Linked DNA regions of Homo sapiens. The protein of the gene in region 2 purifies or fractionates together with the protein of the main gene of each other region. This does not show direct contact. Each region holds a gene or a part of one and is shown on either strand. Other genes may lie near its edges.

What was found.
Region 1: the proteins of SV2B (region 2) and AGK purify together in Homo sapiens (affinity purification with mass spectrometry; one large-scale study listed by BioGRID and IntAct). This does not show direct contact.
Region 3: the proteins of SV2B (region 2) and NUBPL purify together in Homo sapiens (affinity purification with mass spectrometry; one large-scale study listed by BioGRID and IntAct). This does not show direct contact.
Region 4: the proteins of SV2B (region 2) and FDFT1 purify together in Homo sapiens (affinity purification with mass spectrometry; one large-scale study listed by BioGRID and IntAct). This does not show direct contact.

Annotation. Positions count from the first base shown.
Region 1 is NC_000007.14:141,557,910-141,562,246, reverse strand, and holds part of AGK (acylglycerol kinase, mitochondrial isoform 1 precursor), read right to left. Parts: intron 1-4,337. UniProt on the Homo sapiens protein: Lipid kinase that can phosphorylate both monoacylglycerol and diacylglycerol to form lysophosphatidic acid (LPA) and phosphatidic acid (PA), respectively. Does not phosphorylate sphingosine. Phosphorylates ceramide.
Region 2 is NC_000015.10:91,105,736-91,110,910, reverse strand, and holds part of SV2B (synaptic vesicle glycoprotein 2B), read right to left. Parts: intron 1-5,175.
Region 3 is NC_000014.9:31,844,404-31,848,740, reverse strand, and holds part of NUBPL (iron-sulfur cluster transfer protein NUBPL isoform 1 precursor), read right to left. Parts: intron 2,271-4,337; coding exon 2,150-2,270; intron 1-2,149.
Region 4 is NC_000008.11:11,809,241-11,813,577, forward strand, and holds part of FDFT1 (squalene synthase), read left to right. Parts: exon of another isoform or gene 1-250; intron 251-426; coding exon 427-610; intron 611-4,337. UniProt on the Homo sapiens protein: Catalyzes the condensation of 2 farnesyl pyrophosphate (FPP) moieties to form squalene. Proceeds in two distinct steps.

The DNA.
Region 1 (4,337 bases), on a different chromosome or scaffold from region 2:
ACTGCTCCCGAGAAGGAGAAAACAACAGCTAATACCACTGCCTGCAACATCCTGGCTAACCAAAGGTCCTGAGTCTATCCATGTGACAACTTCACCGCTTGCATAACCAGCATTCAAGAAAGCCAGCACACTAAACCTATCTATAGCCAAGGATCCTCACAGAGTCTACATCATTCCCCTGCCACCTCCACCACAGCAGGTGCTGGTACCCATGGCTGAGAGACCTGAATATGGATTACATCACAGGACTCTTTTCAGACATTCCCCAGCACCAGCCTAGAGCCCGCTATCCCTGCTGGATGGCTAGATCCAGAAGACCAGTAACAATCACTGCACTTTGGTTCTCAGGAAGCCCCATCCCTAGGAGGAGCAGGAGAGCACCACATCAAGATATCGCCTCATGGGACAAAAGAATCTGAAGAGCAGGCCTTGAGTTCCAGATCCTTCTGCTTGTGGGTAGTTTCTCACAGCAGAGACAAAATTGCAGCACTGGACACAGTAGGGAAAGTTGCACCTAAACCCCAATAGGCAGGCAGCCTCTGTGATCACATAGGGCCTTGGAGAAGAGGTCCTTGTTCCCTACTGGCACTCCACCACAGAGGAACTCAAACAAATCAGCAAGAAAAAAAAAATAATTCCATCAAAAAGTGGCCTAAGGACATGAATAGACAATTCTCAAAAGATATACAGATGGCCAAGAAGTATATGAAAAAAATCTCAATATCACTAATCATCAGGGAAATGCAAATTAAAAAAAATAATGAGATACCACCTTACTCCTGCAAGAATGGCCACAATTAAAAAATTAAAAAATAACAGATGTTGGCATGGATATGGTGAAAAGGGAACACTTACGCTGCTGGTGGGAATGTAAATTAATACAACCACTATGGAAAACAGTATGGAGATTCCTTAAATAACTAAAAGCGGAACTACCATTAAATCCAGCAATCCCACTACTGGGTATCTACCCAAAGGAAAATAAGTCATTATATGAAAAAGACACTTGCATATGCATGTTTATAGCAGCAAAATTTGCAATTGCAGAAATATGGAACCAACCTAAATGCCCATCAACCAACAAGTGGCTAAAGAAAATGTGGTATATATACACCATGGAATACTACTCAGCCATAAAATAAACTGAAATAATGGGCCGGGCGCGGTGGCTCACGCCTGTAATCCCAGCATGTTGGGAGGCCGAGGCGGGCGGATCACGAGGTCAGGAGATCGAGACCATCCTGGCTAACACGATGAAACCCCGTCTCTACTAAAAATACAAAAAATTAGCTGGGTGCGGTGGCAGGCACCTGTAGTCCCAGCTACTTGGGAGGCTGAGGCAGAATGGCATGAAGCCGGGAGGCGGAGCTTGCAGTGAGCCGAGATCGTGCCACTGCACTCCAGCCTGGGCGACAGAGCGAGACTCCGGCTCAAAAAAAAAAAAAAAAAAAGAAAGAATGGCACTTGCAGCAACCTGGATGGAGTTGGAGACCATTACTCTAAGCGAAGTAACTCAGGAATGGAAAGCCAAATATCATATATTCTCATTTATAAGTGAGAGCTAAGCTATGAGGGCACAAAGGCATGAGAATGATATAAGGGACTTTGGGGACTCAGGGGGAAAGGTGGGAGTGGGGTGAGGAATAAAAGACTACACACTGGGTACAGTGTACGCTGCTCGGGTAACGGGTGCACCAATATCTCAGAAATCACCACTAAAGAACTTATCTATGTAACCACAAACCACCACCTGTTCCCCAAAAACTATTAAAATAAAACAAAATTTGTAAAAACCATAATAATAAAATGACCTGATGGGGGAAAAAAAAAAGAAGAAGAAGAAAGAAAGGACAAGGCAGCTTCCACTCAAGAAGACTACAGGGTAAGATCTTCTCAGGGTAAAAACAAGTTTGGTATAAAGAATGTGAGCACTGTTCTGTGAAAAGGTTGGGGATATATAGGCAAAAAAAAAAACGGAGGGAGGGCAACAAAAGGAAAAGTATCACAGCATAATAAAGGTCATTTATGATGAGCCCACAGCTAACATCATACCCAATTTTGAAATACTGGAAGTTTTTCTTCTAAGATCAGGAATAAGACAAAGATGTCCACTCATCACTTCTACTCAACATAGCACAGGAAGTTCTAGCCAGAGCAATGAGGCAAGAAAAAGAAATAAAGGCATCCAAACTGGAAAGGAAGAAGTAAAATTATCTCTATTCACAGATGACATATCTTATATGTAGAAACCCTAAAGATTCTACACCAAAAAAAAAAGCTGTTAGAACTAATAAATTCAGCAAAGTTGTAGGATACACAACACACAAAAATCAGTTATATTTCTATATCCTAAGAATGAACAATCTGAAAAGGAAATTAAGAACACAATCCCATTAACAATTGCATCAAAAGAATAAAATACTTAGGAATAAACTTAAGCAAGTAGGTAAAAGACTTATACGCTAAAAACAAAACACTGCTGAAAGAAATTAAAGAGTACAATAAAAAGACATCCCGTGTTCATAAATTAGAAGACTTAATATTGTTCAAATGTCTATTCTACAAAACAATGTACAGATTCAATGCAATCCCAATGGCATTTTTTGCAAAAATAGAAAAAACATCCCAAAATTCATATGGAATCTCAAGAAATCCCCAAACATCCAAAACAATCTTGAAAAAGAACAAGGATGGAAGTCTTATATGTACTAAATTTAAAATATATTACAAAGCAATAGTAATCAAAACAGTGTGGTATTGGCATAAATACAGATATATAGACTAATGAACAACAGAAAGCCCAGAAATAAATCCTCATCTATATGGTCAAATGATCTTCAATAGGGATGCCAAGACCACGCAATGGGGAAATGACAGTCTCTTCAACAAATGGTAATGGAAAAACTAGATATCCATATGGAAAATAATGAAGCTGAACCCCTATCTTATACCATATAAAAAAAATTAACTCAAAATCTGTTAAAGACCTAAATGTAAGACCCAATATAAAACTCCTAGAAGAAAACATAGGGAAAAGCTTCATGACACTGGATTTAGCAATGATTTCTTGAATATAACACCAAAAGCAGAGGCAAACAAAAGCAAAAGTAGACAAATGGGCCTTAACGAAACTAAAAACAATATATATCAAAGGACATGATCAATAGTGTAAAAAGGCCAGCTACAGAATAGGAGACAATATATTGAAAATTCTATATCTCACAAGGGATTAATATCTGGAATCCATAAAGAACTCCTACAGGCCAACAACAACAAAACTCAATTAAAAATGGAAAAAGGACTTGAACAGACATTTCTCCAAAGATTTTTAAATGGCCAACATGCATGTGAAAAGATGCTTGACTTCCTTAATCATTAGAAAAATGCAAACCAAAACCACAATGACATATCACCTCACACTCATAAGGATAGCCCATATCAAAGAAACAGAAAATAACAAGTGTTGATGAGGGCGTGGAGAAACTGAAAACCTTGTACACCGTTTGTGGGATTGTAAAATGATGAGCCACAATGGAAAACAGTATGAAAGCTCTTCAAAAAATTAAAAATAGACTACCATATGATCTAGCAATCCCCACTTCTGGGCATATATCCAAAATAATTAAAAACAGGATCTCCAAGAGGTATCTGTACACTCAAGTTAATTATAGCATGTTTCACAATAGTCAAGAGGTAAAAGCAACCAAAATGTCCATTGACAGATGTAAAGACCATACCTCTTTAAACGTAAAGAATATATCTTTACATTTAGAGATAATATAGGCCAGGCGCAGTGGCTCACACCTGTAATCCCAGCACTTTCAGAGGCCAAGGCGGGCAGATCACCTGAGGTCAGGAGTTCGAGACCAGCGGGCCAACATGGTTAAAAAAAAAAAAAACCATCTCTACTAAAAATGGAAAAATTAGCCAGGCATGGTGCACGCGCCTGTAGTCCCAGCTGCTTGGGAGGCTGAGGCAAGAGAATCACTTGAACCTCGGAGGCAGAGGTTGCAGTGAGCCAAGATCACACCACTACACTCTAGCCTAGGTGACAGAGCAGGACTCCGTCTCAAAAAAAAAAGAAAAGGTAAAGATAATATAAACATTATAGACATTATAAGTGAAATAAGCCAACCACAAAAATACAAATACTATATGACTCACTGACACAAAGTATAAAGTGGTCAAATTCCTAGAAACAGAAAGTAGAATAGTGGTTGTCAAGGACAGCTGGGTTGGGGCGGGAATGGGCAGTTGTTCAATGGGTACAGAGTTTCAGTTTTGCAAGATGAAAAAGTTCTAGAGATCTGTTGAACAACAATGTGAATATACTTAAC
Region 2 (5,175 bases):
TACATTGCTACCCTATAGCTTTCCTTTCCTTAAAGCTTCATGTTTATGCTTTGCTTTAAAAAACAAAAATTAAAGTGGCTGCATTTAATTCACAGACCCTTACACTGGCATGTGTGGGATGTGTTCGTCACTTGTCATAGTGCTAGGGGTGGAACTAAATTCCTTGAGCCCTCCAGGGTCAAGGGCAGAGGCTCCCGACATTCCCATGACCTTTCCAGCCCCATCTCCCAGGCCCAGCACTTTGCCTAGGGCAGGCCACCCCACGGTGCCTCTTCCTCTCCCGCAGAGCCTCCCACGTGCCAGCTGGGCTCCATTCCTCGGCGCCATCTGCTGCACCCCAGATCAGGCGAGAGGCCACGGTCAGATTCTGCGTGCGATAGAGCAGGGATGGCAGGCAACACAGGAGCCACCCTCACTGGGCCTGGGCTCTGGGAGCCAGGCAGGGAAAATCCCAGAGGATTGAGCAATCAGAGGAGGCTGTTGAGGGGCCTAACCAGGCTCTCACCTGCTTGGGAGAACTAGTTGTGCCATTTCAGAGGGTTTCTAAGCATGACAGTGTAGGGGACCCACACCCCGTTTTCCTGTTCTCTCTTGGCCTCTCATACAAACTTAACATTGCTACAGCCCCGACCTGAGCTTTGACCCTCTCTCCATCATTAACTTACTGTATGAATCCAGGAGCCAATTAAACCTCTTTTCTTATAAATTACAATTCTGTTTTCATGGTCATTTCATGAGAGAAACATGCAAATGAACACTGCTAAGAAGAAGGAACAGAACACGTTAATGGATAAATGAGCTGTCCATCATTACTCCTGAGTGAGCGTGATTTGTAATGTGAGTAATGACGGACAGCTCTTTTATCCACCCAAATAAGCTATTTCCGAGGTGGATGCAGTGGTTCATGCCTGTAATCCCAGCACTTTGGGAGGCCAAGCCTGGAGGATTGCTTGGGAAATCCAGCCTGGGCAATATAATGAGACCTCGTCTCTACAAAAAATTAAAAAATTAGCCAGGTATGGTGGGACACGCCTATAATTCCAGCTACTTGGGAGGCTGAGGTGAGAGGATTGCTTGGGCCCAAGAGGCAGAGGTTGCAGTGAGACCAAGATTGTGCCACTACACTCCAGCCTGGGCAACAGGGCAAGAACATGTACCAAAAAAATTTTTTTAATTATTTCCTTCCTTGAATAATAAGAAGTTTGGATTCCCCGCTTTCTAGGGTCCCTTCGAGCTCTGAAACTGTAAGATCCTACAGTTCAATTAAGGTCTTCATTGACTTGAGCATATTCTGGACCTGAAAAGGAACCTGCCCATGAAATATTCATTAAAACAAATCACGCTCACTCAGGGGTAATGATAGACAGCTCATTTATCCATTAACGTGTTCTGTTCCATCTCCTTAGCAGTGTTCATTTGCAGGTTTCTCTCATGAAATGATCATGAAAACAGAATTGTAAATCACACCTATCACACCTAGGTGAGTTTTGGGAGCCTAGAGCTCCTGCCCACACACATATCACCTGGGGTTGACATAAGAAGTACTTAACAGCACCAAGCTCCCAGTTTGAACAGTCAACTTCCAAATCCAGACACCTGTGATTCAACAATCAGCTTCTGGATGCAGACATCCGTGATTCAAGAAGGCCCCAGCGGTCTGGAAGAATTACCTTCTCTTGCATCTATGCAGAGCTGGCAGGAAACAAATGAGATTGTGCATCCACTTTTCCAAGGGTACTTTTGTCTGTCATTTCTTTTCTCTGCGCCTCAGATATCTCATCTGTAAAATGGGCACAGGAGGAAGGATGTAGCCTATCTGCCTCCTGAAGAAGTTCAGTTCTGAGGGGCTAGACAGTCATCCGTTAGGAGAGAATTTTCAATTGCCTTTTGTGAAAAGAAAATTAATGCTACTCTCTCCCCTGCCAACCCATACAGAATCAAGCTCTAACAACTGAAGGGAACAGGAGGTGGGTGGAGCAGAAGTGTGTATAGAAAACAGGAAGACTTAACGGGACCACAGGCTTCTGTGTGGGAGCTGAAGCAGGGAACCCAGGTGTGGGTCTTTGTTGCTAAGTCAGGAGACACTGTTGCGTTACCTGTAATCAAAGGTCAGGACAGCAAGGGAGCTTTGGCTTTGCTGACGATGTAACTGGGGGCTTAAAGGGAAAGCTGAGTATATGATTCTTGATCTAGGGGATGTCAGAATGGTAGCCAAGGCATGAGGGTGGTGGAGAGAGGGTAACATTAGCTGCTGAGTACCTGCCAGAGACTTAGCTCATCACTGTCACTTACCTGCTGATCTCTTGCCCAGGCCGGGAGGAGCAACCAAGAGAGCCACAGCCAACAGAGAAAACACAGCAGCATTTATTCACCATGTATCTAATAAATACGTATAGTGTGCCTACTATGTGCCTGGAACAGGAAGAACCACAGACCTTTCCAGAAGAACACCATGCAGTGGATTCTGTGGGAGCCACAAAGGCATCAGACAGGAAAGCTTCTGCATCTATATACTACACATGACTCCAAAATTTTCATTATGGAATTCCAACAAACTATGCGACACTGCAGAACTGAACTAAGGAGATTGGCTTATTGCAGAGAAGGGAGGTTAGTTTTCCTCTGAGGCACCTTGAAATGTCTAGCCCATAAGGCTAGACATTTTATTATTGTCCCTTTGTCTAATTTTGAACATTATGGGCCCCATGGAAATAATCTTCTAAATGGCACTGTGAACATCAAATTCTCATTTCTCCCTTCACATAAAATCTTTAAGTCCTTCAGCTGGTATGGTAATCCTTTAATCAATATTTACACCAACATAGTTCCAAGTCCAGGAGCATGAAGGAGACTGCAGAACACTGGGGTATGATTACTATCATCATCATCATCACCACCACCACACCACACCACCATCATCACCTTACAACTGAGGAAACCCAGGCTCAGGGAAATTAAATAATGTGCTCAAGTTTACACAGCTAGAAAGTAAGGAAGCTTGGGCTGGGCATGGTGACTCACACCTATAATCCCACCACTTTGGGGACTAAGGTGGAAGAATCACTTGAGCCCATGAGTTCAAGACCAGCCTGGGCAGCATAGCAAGATCCCACCTCTACAAAAAAATTTAAAAATTAGCCGGGCATGGTGGTGCATGCCTGTATTCCCAGCTACTTTGGAGGCTGAGATGGGAAGATCACTTGAGCCCGGGAGGTCAAGGCTGCAGTGAGCTGAGTTCACGCCACTGCACTCCAGCCTGGTTGACAGAGTGAGACCCTGTCTCAAAAAAAAATAGAAAGTTAGCGGGCACGGTGGCTCACGCCTGTAATCCCAGCACTTTGGGAGGCCAAGGCGGGCAGATAACAAGGTAAAGAGATCAAGACCATCCTGGCCAACATGGTAAAACCCCGTCTCTACTAAAAATACAAAAATTAGCTGGGCGTGGTGGCACGTGCCTGTAGTCCCAGCTACTCAGGAGGCTGAGGCAGGAGAATCGCTTGAACCCGGGAGGCAGAGGTTGCAGTGAGCTAAGATTGTGCCACTACACTCCAGCCTGGTGATAGAAGGATACTCCATCTCAAAAAATAAATAAATAAATAAATAAATAAATAAACAAACAAATAAAGTAATGAAGTCTGAGTGCAAACCCAGTTCTGTCTGATGCTAAAGCCCACTGCTCCATCCTAGCCCCATGTGGTCAGGCCTAGTAACCACACGTAAAAATGAAGGGCAGCTTGCATCTCTTTCTCACACTTCCTTCTGGGATTTGGTTCTTTTTCTCCGCCACTGGCACATTCTCCATCTCTCTCTCTCTCCCTCACACACACACACACACAACCACTTTCAACAGCAGTACCTGCTTTTTCTTGTTTCACTCCCTTCACCAACATCATTGCAAACAAAACTTATATAGAATCAGACACACCACGAGAAGAAAATGGACAGCACCCACAGCCTGAGGCTGAAGTCATTCCAGCCCTCCCCTTTTCCTATGAAGGCTATTCCCTATTTCTTCCTTTTATAAACAGGAACACATTATGCAAGCTACTGTAGATGTGGGGTTTCTCAAGCAAGCTGGTGACACTCGGCATAAATTGATTTAAATAAAATTCTCCCCTTTCAAGATTCTTCCTTGCTTCTGCCTCATCTTAAATTAAGAGCAGTACAATAATAACCCAAGAACATCACACCCCTGAATTTCAGCCACCTCCCTCTAAAGGATCTTTTCTCATTTTTTGAAAATATGAGCTATTTTTTGGTTTCCACTTGTTCCTCTTTCTTTCTTGTCACCACACGTTGCTTTCCGTATGATATAAGCGATTGGAGCCTTCACATTTAAAGCCTCTTTTTAGTGCATAAGATCCACAATAAGGCTCCCATGAGACCTTGTAAAGAAAGGAAATAACTTCAAGGAGTTACACTTCAAAATCCACCAAAGCAAAGATTTGCAGTCAACTCTAGTAAGTAAGTGGTTCCATTCACTCATTCAGTACATATCCATTGAGGATATACAATGTGCCAGACAATATTCTGGGCACTAGTGATACAGCAGTGACTTGGCTCACGGAAAAATAAATAACATGCTAATGATACTCAAACCTATGTCTCCTTCCTGAAACTCTTCCCTGAACTCTAGACTCTCATATGCAATGAACTACTTAACATCTCCCATTGGATATCCAATTAAACCCCATCACTGTTTCCTCTCCACCTCACTAAAGTGCTACTCCATCCAGCTGCTTAGGTCAAAATTCATTATGTCATCTTTTTCTCATACTCTAAGTATCTAACTCATCCACACATCCTGCCTGCTTTATGAATTTAGCCACTTCTCACCATCTTTTTTTATTTTTATTTATTTTTGACATGATCTCAATCCATTGTCCAGGCTGGAGTACAATGGCATTATCGTGACTCACTGCAGCCTCGACCTCCCCAGGCTCAGGTGATCCTCCCACCTCAGACTCCCGAGTAGCTAGGGCTACAGGCATGTGCCACCACACCTGGCTAATTTTTTTATTTGTTGTAGAGTTGGGATTTTGCCACGTTGTCCAGGCTGGTCTCAAACTCCTGAGCTCAAGTGATCCACCCACCTTGGCCTCCCAAAATGCTGGGATTACAACTTCTCACCATTTTAAGTACTATCCAGCCTGGTCCAAACCACCACCCTCTCTC
Region 3 (4,337 bases), on a different chromosome or scaffold from region 2:
GGGGAAAAATCTTGTTAAAAATAGGTGCGTAGTAAGAATGGTAATGGGCTAATTGTTGTATCTAGACAGGGATTTTTAAAAAGTAAAAGTGAGTGAGGAGCAGTCTGAGCCTGAGAAGTATTTTTGAGGTGCTAAGTCTGAAAGAAATGAGGAAACATTTCAGACATATAATAGGTTAAAGGGTTTTCTGTGAGATGGTCTGAGACCTTAACTACTATGCATAAACTGTCCCTGTAGGTAAATACAGATAAGGTTCTCAAGAGCTATCGTACCAAATAATCATTTAAAACACGACCCACTGAATTAAGAGTCTGCCAGGGAGTCAGTAAAGGACAAATAAGGGTTCCCAGGAGGTTCAACTGGCCAAGAGGCCAGAGCTGTGAAAGCTTTTTCCCTGATTTCAGTTCCTCATTCCCAATTCCAACCTCTTCATAATTGAAGCCCTGCTCCACTTCATGGGAGACACCATGGGACCCATGACTACATTAAAAGGAGGGGACGTGCCCTAACGAGGAATTCTAAATGATTTTTCCCCTAACACTGTCAGACATAGCAGTCTAGGGCACCATCAAATTTTTGTGATCAGTAGTCAGTGTTTTTGATACATTTTTAGGGTAATTGTACATCTGTGAGCCATTGGTTAAAATGTAACTTCCATACATACCATTGTTTCTCAATGAAATGTTTCAAATTCTAAATAACTGACTTAGGAAATTGTTCAGCTCATTTGTAAGTTAGGAAATTACAATGTTGTCAGTATAATTCAATAATGCCATTATAATTACACATTTACTTTATTATATAAGCGAATGTCAATCTGTTATTATGCAGATTTGGAAAATTGAACTTTCTGGGTTAAATGAAAAACAGTTGCAGAATATAATTAGTGGCTATAATTATAGCAATGTATCAAAATATATCATTAGTATTCACCTGGTATTGTAGTGGCTGCTATAGTGCAAATGCATAACAATAATATATTTAACATCAACTTTTAGAAACTTAATTATAACAGAGAATGTTTTGAAATTCCTTAATCTCTAGGGATCTTAATTTTTAACTACCTAAGTCTAATAATTCACTTTATGCCTTCCCTATTCAGCATCTAACACCTGCCTTTGGCAAGAACAGAAACCCATTCACAATTAGAATATCAAAACATGTTTTCTAAAAAGTCTGTTAAGTTGCCTGTGGATTTTTGGAACATCATGTTTTATCCAAAACCTGTGTTTTGCTTATTTAACACATGATTTTAGTTTTCCTCACAGCACTAATGAACTCTTCAGTTCAGTGCCATGAACAGTGCGTACAATGTAAATTTCAGGTGCCATATTTTAAAGACATATCAAACACATTAAATATTACAGAAAACAGTAAATACTGCCATTCTAAAGCAGAAAGACTAACAAAGAATTAATCAGGAAGGCATTTTTACATATGCACTAAGAACGAACACTTTTAGAGGTTTTTACAACATACGGAACAGACATTTTAATGTACCTGTTTCTACTGAGAGATGTACACCCAACTTAGCAAACACACTGATGAGTATCATTTAAAATATGGCTTCAAATTACAGTACTTGGACTACAAAACTCTATTCTCAAATTTAAGTTATAGACAGTTTTTATTTAAAATAGAAATTATCATAGTTGACAGAACAAACCTATTCAAAAAAGCCAAAGAAAGGTTAACACATAGAACTGTGCTATATTAATTTAAAACACAAAGCCAAAAGCAACTCATCATTTTCAGAGACACTGTTTTTTGTTTTTTGTTTTTTTTTTGATGGAGTCTCACTCTGTCACCCAGGCTGGAGTGCAGTGGTGCTATCTCAGCTCACTGCAAGCTCCGCCTCCAGGGTTCATGCCATTCTCCTGCCTCAGCCTCCTGAGTAGCTGGGACTGCAGGCGCCCGCCACCACGCCTGGATAATTTTTTGTATTTTTAGTAGAGACAGGGTCTCACCATGTTAGCCAGGATGGTCTCGATCTCCTGACCTCGTGATCTGTCCACCTCGACCTCCCAAAGTGCTGGGATTACAGGTGTGAGACTCCGTGCCCGGCCTCTGAGACACTCTTAATCATCAAGCCTCATCCCCACTTTCTCTTCTGCCACTTCTTCTACAAAAGAACATCCCACAGTCTTACCTAGAACTTCAAGACCAAGGGTCTGTGCTAGTTTCCTTGCACCATCAGCACCAAAAATATGAGTTTTGTGTTTACATTTTGGACACTGGAAAACACTCATGTTTTGGACAAGGCCAAGGACCTAGAATAAAAACACACTGAAATCAAAATAAAATTAAACCAAATATTAATACATTACTTCAACAAATTTTTACAGAGTGCCTACTGAGTTCTAGTGGCACTCATCAATGTTATCACAATGATGAATAAACTATGGCCTCTGCTCTGAAGGAACTCATGAGCTAGTAAGAGAGCAAGACATATAGAATTACCTTTGATATCATAATAAATGCTAAAAAGAGATGAATGAACAGGAACCAAAAATTCTGCCTAGAAAGAAGAGAAATCTTTGAGTTTCCCATAGACAGTTGTTTCTTCAGGTTGTGGGGTGATGAGGAGGTGAGGCCCACAGCAGGAATTCTAGACAGAAGGAAGACAACAAGCCAAGGTAGCAAAATAAAACTGTGTGGCCTACTTGGGCTGCAACCCAGTGGGTGGTCAAGGCAGAAGATGGTTTGGGAAGGAAGGCTAGGGCCACGTGGGAAGATGCTGAATACCATCCATGTATTTGAGGCATTCCTCTTCAGACAACAGGAAACCACTAAAGGTTTTCAAAGCTGAAAAGATGGTATCAAAGAGGTAGTTATACAATCAGATTTTTGTTTTAGAAATTTATCTTTGATGACAATTTGGAGAAAAATAAGAAGGGAGGAACAGAGGAAAATAAATACCTAAGAGGTAACTTTGGACGAAGTCTCACAGTAAATCTAAAATAACGAAGTGTTTGTTGTATGCCAGGTGCTGGGTTAAGTACTTTAAATGTACTATCTTATTTACTCTTCACAAGAACTTTATGAGATGGTTATTTTGTTTTTTGTTTTGTTTGTTTCTGAGATGGAGTTTCGCTCTTGTTGCCCAGGCCGGAGTGCAATGGCGCGATCTCGGCTCACCGCAACCTCCACCTCCTGGGTTCAAGTGATTCTCCTGCCTCAGCCTCCCGAGTACCTGGGATTACAGGCGTGCACCACCACACCCGGCTAATTTTGTATTTTTAGTAGCGACAGGGTTTCTTCCTGTTGGTCAGGCTGGTCTCGAACTCTCAACCTCAGGTGATCCGCCCACCTCGGCCTCCCAAAGTGCTGGGATTAGAGGAGTGAGCTACCGTGCCCAGCCGAGATGGTTATTTTATCATTCTCATTCTATGGTTGAGAAAACTGACAGTGCTAACAAAAGAGTAAAACTCAGCTCTTATCAGAATGTTATTGTCTGAAACAAAATTAAGTTTCATAGAAAAGGTCATTCTCTTTCTAAGTTTCCCTAGATTCTGCTACAAAATAGATACAGCTAAACCTTGAACATGAGTTTGAACTGTGGGGGGTCCACTTATGTGTGAATTTTTTTTGAACCAACCACAGATAAAAAATATAGTATTTGCCCGCCACAAAACCCAAGTACCGGAATGGCTGATGTCCTAGAAGCAACTGTGGGACTTCAGTATGCATGAATTTTGGAATATGCAGTGGCGGGGGGAGGGCGATTCTGGAACCAATCCCCCACATATATTGAGGGAAGATGATACTTAAGAAATGTTATTATTCAACAATACTGTTGAATAAATAGATAGGCTCTGCAAATATAATCCTTACTCATGTTCCTTTTAATCCCACTCTCTCATTGATGAGGAGCAGTAGCTCTCTTCTAGAATAAAAATGCAGAACACTATTTTCAGAGGCTTAGAGATTACAATAAAAATGCAGAACACTATTTTCAGAGGCTTAGAGATTACAATGTCTGTATCAGTTCTACCATAAGGTTATGATTGTAGATTATTAGAACATTTGCATTTTAAATGAAGAACAGTACTGATAGTCCACAATGAAACATATAGATAAGAAGGCGAAAAAATTGTTATTCTTTCTGAAAAGAGAAATAGAAAAAACTAAAGTTGCCCCCAATAATTATATATGAAGACAAATAGTAAAAAGACATAAATCTATAGCAAAGCATTTTCCAAGCATCTAATATATGCCCTTTTGCTGATGCACACTATCACAAAAAATAAATCACGCTGTGTTTTGGGAATTCAGTACTATCTCCAGAAAGCTAGAGAGAAACATAGCTTAATGTCACACAGCTTGTTTATTAACTA
Region 4 (4,337 bases), on a different chromosome or scaffold from region 2:
TGAAGCTGCCTCTGTGCACATTACACCCATGAACTTAGACCAGTTGCCTTTATGTATGATCGTATTTATACTGAGAAGTTACTGTGTTTTTTGACTTTCTTTTCTATTTGCTACATATTAGTTCGGTCTAAACGTTTGGTCTTCTGGTCTCCATAGTTCTACATTGGTTAAATGCAACTCACTTCTGGGAGTAGTGGTGACATTCAACTAGTAGGCTTTTTAATAAACTACAGAAGTTCATTACTCTCATGTAAGGAAGGAAAACTAATGTAACTTTCGTTAAGTATGAAAAGCGTTGGATATCCTTATAGTTCTTTAGAGTTAAGGGTGAGATGGGTTTAGAAAGTGGCCAGGCACAAGTTATTTTAAAATAAAAAATCTTTGGCTGTTTGTTCCAATATATTAATAGTTTTCCCTTTTTTACAGCAACGCAGTGTGCATATTTTATCTGGTTCTCCGAGCTCTGGACACACTGGAAGATGACATGACCATCAGTGTGGAAAAGAAGGTCCCGCTGTTACACAACTTTCACTCTTTCCTTTACCAACCAGACTGGCGGTTCATGGAGAGCAAGGAGAAGGATCGCCAGGTGCTGGAGGACTTCCCAACGGTGAGTGGGGTTACGCATCTTGTCTACGGACTGTTGTGTTCATAATTGCTAACGTGGTTGTCCGGTAGCCTCCATACATGTGGAGAAAGGTTAAATAAGCATTCTGAGGGCAGCATAATGTGAGGGTTAAAAACTCCGGTAGCCAAGACTCTGAAGCCAGGCTGCCTGGGTTGGAATCTCAAATCTCCCACTTACTAAACTGTTGGTTACTTACAAAGACTCTCTGTGCCTCAGTTTCTTCATCTGTAAAATAGGGGTAATAATAACACCTACCTCATGGTATTCTGAGGATTCAAAGAATTAACGTAGGTAATGCTCTTAGAATGTTAGCTACTGCTGTTATTATCAGTATTGGAAGTCCAGTGTTTCTTCCTGTGGGAAGACGCAGTCAAATTTTAGTGTTGTGAAAGATTCTCAGGCTAGCTCACAAAAGCCTGCCGACTGTATGATGCAGCCTACCTGTAACACTGCTGGCCTCTTGACTACCCGGAGCCTGGTAGCATGGGACTGCTGCTCACGATGGGCAGCAGCCTGGCATGGGGGCGGTGTCTGTTGGCAGCTAGGGCGAGCCTCTGCCACTTCACCTGTGATCCTGGGCAAGTTCCTTATCTGCTTTGTGTCTCCGTCTCCTCGTTTGTAAAGTTAGAGCTGAGAGGATTAATTTCGCACATATAAAGTACTTAGTGCCTGGTACAGGGTAAGTATTCTGTAAGTATTAGCTATTTGGTCTATTTTGTTGGAGTAAAGTGGGTTATAGTTAAAATCCTAAGATTTTTAAAGTCCCTCAAGTTCATGTGGACATCTGCCTAGGTCCTACTATCCTAGAATTCGCATGTCTTATCACACAAATAACTGATTCTTCCATATCTTATAAATAAAGGTTTGATTTAGCAAAGTCACATGTTGTGTAATAGCTCGAAGAAGCCCTTTTTGTCCACAGTTGCCAGAGCTTTTGGAGAACAGTCCTTATGTTATTGAAACAAACCTAATCTGTAGCTGAGTTGGGAGGGAGCTAAGTGGACAGAGAGTCCTCCACCCAAACAAAAGAATCTTTGATTCTTGGGCATAATGGGAGCAATATTTAAAAAAAAAAAAAAAAAAAAAAAAAGGAATGTTTGGGGAAGACTCTTGCGGTGCAAAGGCTGTTTCAGATTGCTGAGATCAGACCTTAAGTACCAAAGCCCAAATATAGTACAACATAATACAAATGAGAAGAAAATAGCTGAAGAATAATTCGAGTTTATACAGTACAATTCAAGAGAAGAAAGAAAATTTATGACGACTAGCTGGGTGAGAATTAGAACTGTAACCCTGGGAAGGTCCTGGTGATTTGACTCTCACAGGACACCTGATGACCAGAGGATGGGTTTCCTTTGATGGGAAATCTGTGGCGATTCATTGATGGGCCTCTGAATTCTGCTGAAGCAGAGGAAGTAGTAATACCCCATTTATAATGGAAGTGCATTCTCACTTAAAAACAACTAATATTATTCTAGCTGGACCTAGCCTCTAGAAACAGCCAAATTACATTTGACTTGAGTGGATTCATAATAATTAAAAAATTTCTGGGGCATGGGATAAATGTGTTAGGTATTGCTAAGTCAAGGCAGCCCTATCCCCTCAGCAGAAGTGAGGGAATATGAAAGTGTGTGAATGCTAACATAATTTTGGGGAATATCGCCGTCAGATTTCCAGATGATATTCCAACATGTTTGTGAAACTTCAGTGTCTTCCTGTGTTCATACAGTGTTCCAGTGGAAAAATAATGCTTAGTTCTGGAAGGTTTCAGATGTGAACACTGAACTCATCGTTTTCTTTTTTGGGTAGTAGAGTTAGAGATTCCATCCTCTTGAAAGCACAGTTGCCCCGGGAAGAGTAAAAGGGAGCAGAAGGCGTAAGCCAGGCACGGCTGTTTTCACTGTTGTTCACCTTTTGTATCCTTACGAATATGAAGATGTACTAAGTTGTGTGTTTTGCGTGCATATATAATTTTAAGCTACTTGAGTTGTAGGTCCCTCCAGTCTGTGATTCAGTTTGAGATGGGACTGTATGGGAATTAACAGTGCCTTGTCTTCTTAAGGAGTGATTTGTGTATGTGCTGATATAGCTCAGTATGTCTTTGAAACCAGTTGTCTGGGGCTAGGCCTGCAATCAGCTTTTGGCTAAGAGGTCCCAGGATGGAACAAGTAGTGTGAAAGAGGACTGATACCTTGGCCTCACACACAGTACTGCTCTTAGACTGGGGCAAGTGAAACTCCTCACTTCAGAGTGCCCCATTCTAGGCCCCCTCACTCCCAAAGGGGTGAGGGATCACTGGGGCCATGGGAATGTGCTTGTTCAGCTCTCGTGGGCTCTCCTTCTGTACCACGTTCTGGACATCTGGAGTTCCTTGCCCCAAATCCCTGAGCCCACGTCTGCGTCCGCACAGTCTATTTCCTAAGGTCAGTCCATCTCCTCCAGGTGGGAACGTGCCACCATTGACTGTGCCCTTGGGCCTGAGTGATGGCCAAGGGCTGTGTTGGGGAGTGTTGTGGATGGATCCTGGCACCGAGGGCTGGGATATCCTCTCAAATGAATGTGAGGTGCCTCCCAGTGCTGGAGAGAGCGGGATTCAGGAAGCAGTGGAAGGGAAGAGCCTGGGATATGGGGATCAGCTGTCTGTGCCCTGCTGCATTCTGGAATAAAACTCTGAGGGACTAAGAATTCTAAATTCAAACCTGAATCAACCAGGTTGTTACAAAGATAAGTTTGTCAGTGCAGGAGGATACAATATATTTTACTTAAGTTACTAGCTCGATTGATCATTTTTAAATTTTTAGCTACATATAGTATGTGGGCCTCCATTTGTCCTCTTATCCCAGGCCTTGCAGAATTTAGGAATAAGCCTCAATACAGTGTTCTAACCCAGTGACTTCCGCCTCGATGTACAGTAGATTGAACCTGATCCTTTATACTTTAGTGATCATTAGTTGATACCAGTTCAAGTCAGGCTTTCTAGAAATCTCATTGTATGTTAGGGGTTCGATTAGAGTACAGTCATGCATCACTTAATGAATGGCCACAGGATACATTCTGAGAAACGCATTGATAGATGATTTCATCATTCTGTGAACATCATAGAGTGTACTTACACATACCAAGATGGCATAGCTACTACAGACGTAGGCTCTGTGGTACAGGCCATTGCTCCAAGGCTGCACATCTCTACAGGATGGTACTGTACTGAATACTGTAGGCAATTGGAGCACAGTGGTAAGTATTTGTGTATTTAAACATAGAAAAGGTATAGTAAAAACAGGGTGTTACAGTCTTAAGGGCCCACCATTGTATTTCCAGTCTCCGTTGACTGAAACATCATTATACAGTACATGAGCACGTATCTTTCTCACCTGGTACTAGTGGAAAGCTAGAAGGCTTAGAAGTCTACCTGTAAACATAGCTTAAGTAATAATACAGCCTTATTTTTAAATGATAATAGCAATAATAGTGTTCACTTATTGAGCATTTTACTATGAGTTACTTACTAAATATATTTCATCGTTAATTTACTCTTTGTGTTATTTGATCTATAACATCGTTTAACAGGGAAATTACCTAGTACATAATGTACTGTTATCTACATTTTATCTAGATGAGGAAACTGAGGCACAGAGAAATTAAGTACTTTGCCTAGGATTACCCGTGAAGTTAAGTGACAGAATCAATGAATCTGGAAGGTCTGGCTTCA